Regions from separate parts of the Homo sapiens genome. Here regions 2 and 3 are each reported to be linked to region 1. The links are microRNA targets in miRTarBase. Many come from high-throughput screens and were not tested one by one. Region 1 holds a microRNA gene; each other region holds the end of a gene's coding sequence.

Evidence for each region. The annotated mature microRNA hsa-miR-454-3p reads UAGUGCAAUAUUGCUUAUAGGGU and lies in region 1 at 1,947-1,969, shown strand. An mRNA with a match to its seed (bases 2 to 7 or 8) in the 3' UTR can be bound and repressed. Matches are read on the target gene's strand: a 7mer-m8 pairs with bases 2 to 8, a 7mer-A1 pairs with bases 2 to 7 and ends in A, and an 8mer does both.
Region 2: miRTarBase lists FLNC as a target of hsa-miR-454-3p. The part of its 3' UTR that is shown has no 7-base or 8-base seed match.
Region 3: miRTarBase lists MBNL3 as a target of hsa-miR-454-3p. The part of its 3' UTR that is shown has no 7-base or 8-base seed match.

Annotation. Positions count from the first base shown.
Region 1 is chr17:59,136,756-59,139,755 of GRCh38, reverse strand. It overlaps MIR454 (microRNA 454), which reads left to right and starts at 1,884; the gene lies at 1,884-1,998. The region is part of intron 1 of SKA2 (spindle and kinetochore associated complex subunit 2); the gene reads left to right.
Region 2 is chr7:128,858,079-128,861,430 of GRCh38, forward strand. FLNC (filamin C) reads left to right here. Exons shown (of 48, transcript NM_001458.5): 47 at 1-139; 48 at 258-1,194. The coding sequence ends at 445. The region is part of intron 1 of FLNC-AS1 (FLNC antisense RNA 1); the gene reads right to left. Among named protein-coding and RNA genes, the nearest start is that of FLNC-AS1, 2.9 kb to the right of the region's middle. RefSeq lists an enhancer at 115-615.
Region 3 is chrX:132,376,683-132,380,034 of GRCh38, forward strand. MBNL3 (muscleblind like splicing regulator 3) reads right to left here. Exons shown (of 9, transcript NM_001386889.1): 9 at 1-2,995. The coding sequence ends at 2,984. The region is part of intron 2 of RAP2C-AS1 (RAP2C antisense RNA 1); the gene reads left to right. Among named protein-coding and RNA genes, the nearest start is that of MBNL3, 110 kb to the right of the region's middle.

The DNA of each region.
Region 1 (3,000 bases):
ATACAGTAGATGGTAAACCAAAGCCATGAACAAAGTAAAAGGAGAGTAGATAAAGGTGTTTCTAAATGTACATTGAAGAGAAGAAAATGTACAAAAAGTAGATTCTGGCCGGGTGCAGTGGCTGACACCTGTAATCCTAGCACTTTGGGAGGCCAAGGCGGGCAGATTACGTGAGCTCAGGATTTCGAGACTAGCCTGGGCAACATAGTGAGCACTCATCTCAAAAACAAAAAAAATTTAAAAATAAAAATAAAAGTAGGTTTTTTGATTATAGCCAAACTAGTTCCATTAAGATACTTAATTCTCCCTTAAAATGTTTCTATGGAAAATGCATTTCTTTTTTTTTTTTTTTTTTTTTTGAGACGGAGTCTTGCTCTGTTGCCCAGGCTGGAGTGCAGTGGCGCCATCTCGGCTCTCTGCAACCTCTGCCTCCCAGGTTTATGCCATTCTCCTGCTCCAGCCTCCCGAGTATCTGGAACTATAGGCATCCACCACCATGCCCAGCTAATTTTTTGAATTTTTAGTAGAGACGGGGTTTCACCGTGTTAGCCAGGATGGTCTCAATCTCCTGACCTCGTGCTCCGCCCGCCTCAGCCTCCCAAAGTGCTGGGATTACAGGCGTGAGCCACTGCGCCCAGCCGGAAAATGCATTTCTAAGCCTGTTTAGTAAGTCCAGAACACACCTGTCTACCAACTCTTCTCTATGCCTAGCCCACCATAGGTGAGACTGAAATACTTTTTTTCACTTTATGTAATTTAATGCTGTTGAGATAAGGTCTCTCATAAGAGGATGTGTTTAGAGCTTTAAGGGCACTGGTCCTTTGTAGGAGAGCATACGGTGGCAATGAGAATCTAGGGGTTGTTTGTAAAAAGCAAGTGTTTTAAAACTGAGGACCACACAGTATATTGTGACAACCGCAATATATTCTTTTCTCCTTGCTGCCTAATAGTTGAGTAGTATGGAATACCTTGTGCCACTTACTTAAAGCCTTAAACTGGTCATATTGAAAACTAGACTAGAACAGGCTGGGCGCGGTGGCTCATGCCTGTAATCCCAGCACTTCAGGAGGCCGAGGCGGGCAGATCACTTGAGCTCGGGAGGTCAAGACTAGTCTGGGCAAAATGGTGAAACCCCATCTCTACCAAAAATACAAAAAATTTACTAGGCGTTGTGGCGTGTGCCTGTAGTCCCAGCTAGTCGGGAGGCTGAGGCATGAGAATTGCTTGAGCCTGGAGGCAGAGGTTGCAGTGAGCTGAGATTGCGCCACTGCCCTCCAGCCTAGGCAACAGAGTGAGACGCTGTCTCAAAAAATAACAAACAAACAAAACAACTGGTTGAGCATCCCTAATCCAAAATTCCAAAATCTGAAATGCTCCAAAATCCAAAATTCATTGGACCATTTCAGATTTTGAATTTTCAGATTAGGGATGCTCAACCAGTAATTATTATGCAAATATTCCAAAATAGGAGGAAAAAATCAGAAATCTAACTGGCAGAATGTAACCTGGTTTCCCTTGGGGTGCTTTCATGATGATTTCCATAGACTTTTTTCACCTAATTTTGTATTTTATATACCACTTTTCAGATCAGTATAAAACTTTTCCCCTTTATTTTTATTACTGATTTTAGAGAAAACTGGTTTCTGAAATACGAATATCTTGGGCTTTACAAAAATCACTAGTTTTATTTTAAATATTCCATTGCCCCTAAAAAGTTAAACAATAACCTCACTGATTTCCAAGGCTTCCAGGAGGCTGATTTGTAACTGAAAGGGCTGTGAATGATGTTTATCAGAATCAAATTTGCGCGATTTATCAGACACTAATGAGTTTTAGATTATCATAATTGCTTAGTGAATTTCTGCCATCTAACTAAAAAAAATTCTGTTTATCACCAGATCCTAGAACCCTATCAATATTGTCTCTGCTGTGTAAATAGTTCTGAGTAGTGCAATATTGCTTATAGGGTTTTGGTGTTTGGAAAGAACAATGGGCAGGCTGCAGAAAGTATGTAGCAGAAACAAGCAAAAGTCATCTTTAGGAAGAAAACAAGGAACTAGATTTCACTATAAACATTAAAATCTGAGGCTTAAATGTAAATTTTTAATTTATTAGAAGAAGGTAACTTTTCTTTTTGACAAATGGGTTTATTTGTAGTATAAAGAAATAATGGAATTTTAGTATTGAAAAGGATCTTAGATTCCAACTCATTTGATAGGAGAGACCCAAAGAAATGAGGGACTTAACCTAGGGACACATAGCTGGTTAGTGATACTAGGACTAGAATTTCTACCATGTATCCGAATTCTTTTATTTTTCTGTACCATACTACCATGTTGTGTTCAGAGGGAATTTTTAGTTGACTAGCTTTGTAACTTTAGTGATATTAATTTAAAACATAAAAAAACTTTAATTTTAGGTGAAGAATGTACATTTTTGGATGGGTGTGGTGGCTGACACCTGTAGTTCCAGCACTTTGAGAGGCTAAGGCGGGAAGATTGTTTGAGCTCAGGAGTTCAAGTCCAGCCTGGGTAACATAGCGAGACCTTGTCTCTACAAAAAAATACAAAAATTAGCTGGGTTTGGTAGTGCACGTCTGTAGTCCCAGCTACTCAGGAGGCTTAGGCAGGAGAATCAAATCTCTTGAGTCCAGGAGGTTGAGGCTGCAGTGAGCTGTGATTTGTGCCACTGCACTCGCCTGGGCAACAAAGCAAGACCCTGTCTCAAAAAGAAAAAAAAGAATTTACATTTTTTCCACATGTGTGACTCTTAATGGCTTAAATATCATCTATAACTTTGTCTAACTACATAAGAAAACAGTAATGGAAATAGAACTAGAGGCAAGTTACTTTGCTATTTTCTCATTTATAAAATGAAGGGTTCAGAGCAGACATTTAAGATGATTTTTCGGCTGGGCGTGGTAGCTCACACCTGTAATCCCAGCATTTTTGGAGGCCGAGGAGGGCGGATCACAAGGTCAGGAGATCAAGACGAGCCTGG
Region 2 (3,352 bases), not on the chromosome of region 1:
TCCTCAAGCCGGGGCTCCAGCTACAGCTCCATCCCCAAGTTCTCCTCAGATGCCAGCAAGGTGGTGACTCGGGGCCCTGGGCTGTCCCAGGCCTTCGTGGGCCAGAAGAACTCCTTCACCGTGGACTGCAGCAAAGCAGGCAGGTGGCGGGGGGAGGGCGTCTCCCGGGGTGTGAGCAAGAAGCCGTCAGGGAGCAGGGTGTGGGTCACAGTAGGGGACTCCCTGGTGTGAGCCTGTCCCTCTGCCTCCCTCTCCAGGCACCAACATGATGATGGTGGGCGTGCACGGCCCCAAGACCCCCTGTGAGGAGGTGTACGTGAAGCACATGGGGAACCGGGTGTACAATGTCACCTACACTGTCAAGGAGAAAGGGGACTACATCCTCATTGTCAAGTGGGGTGACGAAAGTGTCCCTGGAAGCCCCTTCAAAGTCAAGGTCCCTTGAATCCCAAAAGTGCCTCCCCAGCCTCAGCCCCCACCTCCAGCCACACACACATTACACACACACACACACACACACAAATGTGCCACACCCAGACACGCACAGAATCAGACACTACAAACACCTGCCTTGGGGGTGAAGTGAAGGCCCAGCCTCCCCACCCCACCGCGCCCCAGGGGTTGGAGGACCTTGTCTGTGTCAGGACAGTGTCCCTCCCTGGGAATGTGACATGAGGGCCGACTGGGGCCAGGCTCAGGGGCAGAGGCTGGGACACAAGGGGCTGGCGAGGGCTGCGAGGCCAGGGAAGCCCTGAGTTTCTGGCGGGGCTGAGCAGTGGGGGAGCATTGTGTTGTGGGTGTCTGTGTGTGAGGTCACCCTCAAACTGCACCGCCGGCCAGATACCCTCCTGACCCCGAGGACTTGGTCTGGTCTCTCTGGTGGCTACAACCCCAGAGTTTTAAGGACTTGGAAAGGAAAGCACAATCAGAGAAGAAAACAGCCCCCGAACCAGCAGGAGTGGCCTGGCACATGGACCGGCCTGAGCGATGTGCACTCCACCCAAGCCAGGCTCCCAGGGGGCCTGATTTCTCTCTCACTGTCTCTTTTTTTAAAATGGTTGCACGGCTCTGCCCCATGGGGGGCCTTTTTTACACACTGCGAGGCCCAGCTTTCTAGGGGACTTTTGCACATGTCATGCAGCTCAGCTGGGAGCTGCTTAGGTGGAAAACTCCAAATAAAGTGCGGCTGTCGCAGAGGGTTGGCTGTTCCTTGGGGGTGTGCTCTGTGTGGCTGGCTGCCCTCTGGCCTGCCACACGAAAAACCGGGCCCTGGGGAGGCAGAGGCGGCCTGGCTGTTCCCTGGAAGATTGACCCAGTCGAGGGAAAGGTCCTGGGGCAGAAGTGAGGTCTGGGATGTTGGCAGAGTGCTTGAAAGAACCGGGGGTGGGGGCTCGGGGATGTGGGAAGGGGTCCCAGCGGGAGGGTTCGTGGACAGTACAGGGTGTGGATACTGTGTTCTACAGTACTGTCCCAGGACCCCTGGGAGGCCAGTTTCAGTTCAGCTTGACCTCAAGGATGTTTTTCAAATTAAGACTTTAAAACAGTGAGCACTGACTCAAACAGGAATATTCCTCAACCAGCAGGCAGGCAGAACCACCTGCAGACTCAGCACCTTCCCCCTAGTCAGTTCCTGAATCAACTTGGCCTGTTTCATGCCCCTTTCCAGCACTAAGCTTGCACAGGGCCTCCCTCCTGAACTCCTGCAACAGCCCTGCCCTGGCCAGCTCCCTCCAACCTCCCCTCCATGCTGCAGCTTGGCGGGGGGGTCACTTTAAAGATAGTATATGCCCCTCTCTGGTTTAGGGCCATCTGTGACTCCCTCCTGCTCCAGAGTAAAGTCTCCTCTTCCTGACAAGGTCTCCAGGGCCACCCAGGTTCAGACAGCAGCCTCCCCAGCCATATGAGTTGGGCAGCAGGCCCACTCTCCATTGTGCCCTCCACCTCCAACCCCCCTTCATTACCTCTGGGCACCCATGCTGTAATTTGGGCCCTTGCCCGGAAACACCTTTGCCTCCCCACCCTCTTCATCTTCCTGGCCAACAGGAAGTTTTCCTGGACCCCTCCCTACCCCTCCTGGATCAGTGCCCCCAGCTCCCAAACTGCCCTGGGACACATCTCTAGTTGCAGTTACGACCCTGAGCTGTGGCCATGTATCCACGGCTCCCCACCAGATGGAGCTCCCTGGCCCTGGGTGTGAATGAGTGAGTGAATGGGTATGAATGAATAAATGAGCAGCTGAGTAGCTGCAGCAGGGAAAAGAAGTCTTTCATTCAACTGATCCCACAATCTAGACCCACCTGGGCATTTCAGCACATGGTGGTGGGCTTGGCAGAAAAACCCACGAGTCCCCAACTCCTAATCCCTGACCTCCCCACCTCTCTCACCAGGCTCTGTGCTTCCTCCCTCTTCCCTCACACCCTCCCACACACCCATCCTCACTCTCTGCCCCCCTCACCCTCACCCTCACCCCTAGATGTGCTAATTTCCCCCTCAGCTTCGGCTGCCTCCACCTGTGTGTGGCTGATAAGCTCACAGACCTCCAGCCTGCCTGCTTCCAGCCAGCCACAGTGTGGCCCTGGGTGCTGAGCCTTACAGGCCCTTCCTCATTAATCCTCATAACAGCCCTATGAGGTGGGGCTACTACCATCTGAAGAAACCAAGGCCCTGGGAATTTCAGTGATGAGTCTGAAACCGTACCTTTAAGTAGTGGGGCACAGATTGAAACCCAGGTGTGCCCGAATCCCAAGCTTATCACACATACAATCGCTAGACCAGACCACGGGCACGTCTCAAGCACTCCAAACTCACAAACCCCATGCCAGACACCGGGAGTGCTGATTTGTTAAAAGGGAGGAGGAAAGAGTGGCTCCTTCCCCTTCAGCCTGCTCATCTTACAGAGGTCACTTTCTTGGCAATGTTACTCCCATCCATGTGCTGCACAGGCCAGAAACCTGGAAATCACCCAGGTCTCTCTCTCTACCTCACTCCCCAAACACATCCACTCTGAAACCAGTTTTGTCCTAAATATCTAAATATCTCTCGGCTCTACCTACTTCTCTGCGTTTCCCATTATCACCACCTGAGTCCTGGCCACCATTATCTCTCACAGTGGCCTCCCAATTTGGTTTCTCCTCCCTCAGTTTCGCCTCTGCACACAGCACAGTCAACAGTGAGTGACAGCTCTAAAACGTAAGTTTGGCGATAGCACTCTCTTACTTGAAATCCCTCAGCAGCTTCAGGATAACTGTCCTCAGGATAACTTCCAGATCTTTTTTTTTTTTTTTTTTTTTTTTTAGACAGAGTCTCACTCTGTCACCTAGGCTGGAGTGCAGTGGCGCCATCTCAGCTCACT
Region 3 (3,352 bases), not on the chromosome of region 1:
ACTTGTCTTTTTAAATGGAAATTTATAGTCTAATGACTTATCTTTCTTCTTTTCTCTTTTCTTGAATAAAGATAATTTGAATAAGTCATTGCACATCTAGTTTAAAGAGTGCTATCTTAAAATTGTATTTTTTTCTGAAAACTCTATTGAATTTGATCAAAACTTTAGGGCTTTGAGCTTTCTTTCTTTAAGTTCATTTAGAAAACAACTTTTAAAATGCCAACAATGTAGAAAATTGTGGCACCAAAAATACAGTGGCCCTAAATACCCCTCACGGAACCTTTTACTTTAAGGTAAGTCATTGTTAATGTCTTCCAGTGCTTAACGCAACATGAAAACAGCTGTACTGTAGGTCTATTATCTATGGTTTATGTATATCTTTGCCCAAAGTTGAAAAAGTTAAGTGAGACAGTTCACTGCATGCAGATGTCAAACTACACAAAAGTTCATTTTGCACAAAAAAGTTCTTGTCTCCTTTAAGGAATATATCCAGACTAGCTCAGGTGCATCCCTCCTGGATTCATGTAATCAGATCTGCCCTTCTGGAGAGGCACTGGCACGGATCATACAAAACTCAGTTCCATACATGATGAATTTCAAAAAGGCATACACTACTTTCTTCTATAGCAATGTTAAGATTTCAGAAATAGAAATTAACTGGTTCAAAGAGTCCATAGGTAAAGGTCAGGACAACTCTTGATCTCTAATTCCACGCAACATTGTCAACAGCTGACAATGACTCAATACAAGCAAGGCTGTTTAGAAAGCACTGTTGATCAGGATTTGGATGGATAATTAAGATCAACAGAGTATCAATTCCCAGAAAGCTAATTTTGCTCTCTTATATTCTGAGCCAAATGGGTCTGCTTTGGAAGAGAGCATCAAATGTTCTGAAGCAAAAACAATGTGAAAAGGAGGAACAATGGGAAGCAGGAGATATTTCTGGGTCCCACAATGGCTAAGGTAGCCTTGGGCAAGTCATATGCCCCTGGATTCAGTTCCATCAACTATAAAAAGGATTTTGCTAATTCCATTGTTCTGTGATTCAAACACTTCTAGCCAGCTTAAGGTATCCTCAATCAGATTTGCTTTTTACTTGTCATTTTCATGAAGGAGAAAAACCATTATATATATATATATATATGTATATGATGGTTTTATACTTTCTGGTGGAAGAGCGCCTATTTACTAGAAAATATTAAATCTATTACTTGATGTAAAATGTCATGTGTTTCCACCACTGTATAATAACATTAATAAATGAGTAGAGTGGATGAGATATGTCACACACCACAGGAATTATTTGGTTGTAAAATTCTTTCATAAATATTAGTAATGTGAACTCAGCTGAGCTCTGTGGAGTATAGCCACTCTGTCTCATTCAAAGGGTGATAAAACCCTTTCTATTGTCATTTTCAAACATATATAAAGGCAAACGAATCCAAACAAGCATAAAAGAGGCTTGGTTATGATGTGAGAGGGTCTGATGTTAAAGTTTGGGCAGGGGGACACTTGCCATATATCACAGGTGCTTTCTCCTTCACTGAACTGTTTAACAAAACGAAACTCAGTTGAACCGAAGCTAAAGACAACTACAACCATCTTTCCCAGTTCTTTTGAATAAATCAAGGAATAATTGTAAGTGCTTCCCTGTTCCCTGTCCTAGCCATTTCTCCAAGCCTGTACTCAGGCTCCCTCTGTGATCAACAGAGAAGACTGTCCATTTGGGGAGGGAAGTCCTCATTTGCAACCAATTCTCTTTCACCCTGACTGACTTTTGCTAGATTGCATCTTACTTGTTATTCAAAGAGTAGTCTAAAGAGCATGAGCCATTTGCATTTGGAAAATGGCATTTGTGTAAAAGGTGACATTGCCATGGTTTTACACACTTTCCTCCAGTACGTAAAAACTATCTCCATGCCCCCATCTCTCCGTTTGATTTATAACTTGTAATTAGCATATTTTTAAGCTCCCAAGTACCAGTTTCTCAGCTGAAGATGACAAATGGCTCAGTTTTAGACACTCAATTTAGGAGATGGGATTCTCAAGCCACACACACAAAAAATCTAATGAGCACTTTACATAATTTTTAGTATAAATGCTGAGAAATTCATTTAAAGGTAAAGTCTTATTTGCCAAGCTATTTAAGAAGAGTGAATTAGGGGTTAATGTTTTATGAAGTTCTCTGCTTTGTGCAGGTAATTATTTCTCTCTTTAAAAAATCTAGTAATTTGATTGTATTATGCAACATCAGATCTGCAGGTACAAATTATACACATGCATGTTAATGAGCAGGTTTTGTGCACATTCAAAAGTGAGGCGTTTTAAATGTCAGTCCCAAGAAACCTACAGAAATATTCTAAAGAAAGAGAGCATATTTGCATGAACCTGTCATGTTCTTAAGCACATATACTTCTGTTCCCCACTAATAACACTTTAGTTGAAATCAAACACCACACATATACAGCAAAACACTACAGTATGTAAAAACCTAACACAGCACAACACAATACAACACAAGAAATGGTACTGAATATATTTGTTACATCCTGAATCAACCCAATAGACTATCTTGTAAACAAAATAGTAAGGTAACACTTCAAAAACAGATGAACAATTTATCCACCAAGAATGTATATAGTAAGCCAAAAGCTCACTGTGGAAATACACTTAGCATGGTTATTAGAAAATCACAAAGAGTAATGTAACAAGTTACCAAATTTTATGGTCATGTTCTGCTTGATAATTCAAATAGGATGGATGGTAGTTACTAGTTTTCTATTTGTGTTGTTTTAACATCTCCATTGATTTTTAATGCTTTATTTTTTATTTGAATTTGCTGGCTGGCAGGTTTGCTTTGCTTAATACATTGACTGCAACACGCTTATTGTTGTGTTGGTAGAATAAGACATACGAGAATATATATAGAAAGGCCATATGGAGGTTTCCATGGAAAGATTCTGATACTCCATAACTCTGCTGTTCAGAATTTCAGCTGAAATGGAAAAAAAAAGAAAGAAAGAAAGAGTGAGAAATATTGAAAGGTTATTGAAGGAAGAGTCAGGAGAGTGTGGTGGGTCTTGTTCCAGTTCTGTCTGTTAACAGTGCCAAAATATCCCCAATCTGAATTTCAGATTGAAATGGGGCTTTTGAGAATGATCATGAAAGAACCATATATCTATGATAGTCTATGATACCCTTTGAGTGCTAATGTGGAGAACTGTCCTAACAGAGATGCAATCCAATGTTTAAGGCATTATCTATCTACTTTTTGTTGAACATACACCCATGTGTCCACCTTTCAACAGGCATGTACTGAGAAAACATGTTTGATACCGAACATTTTGAAATA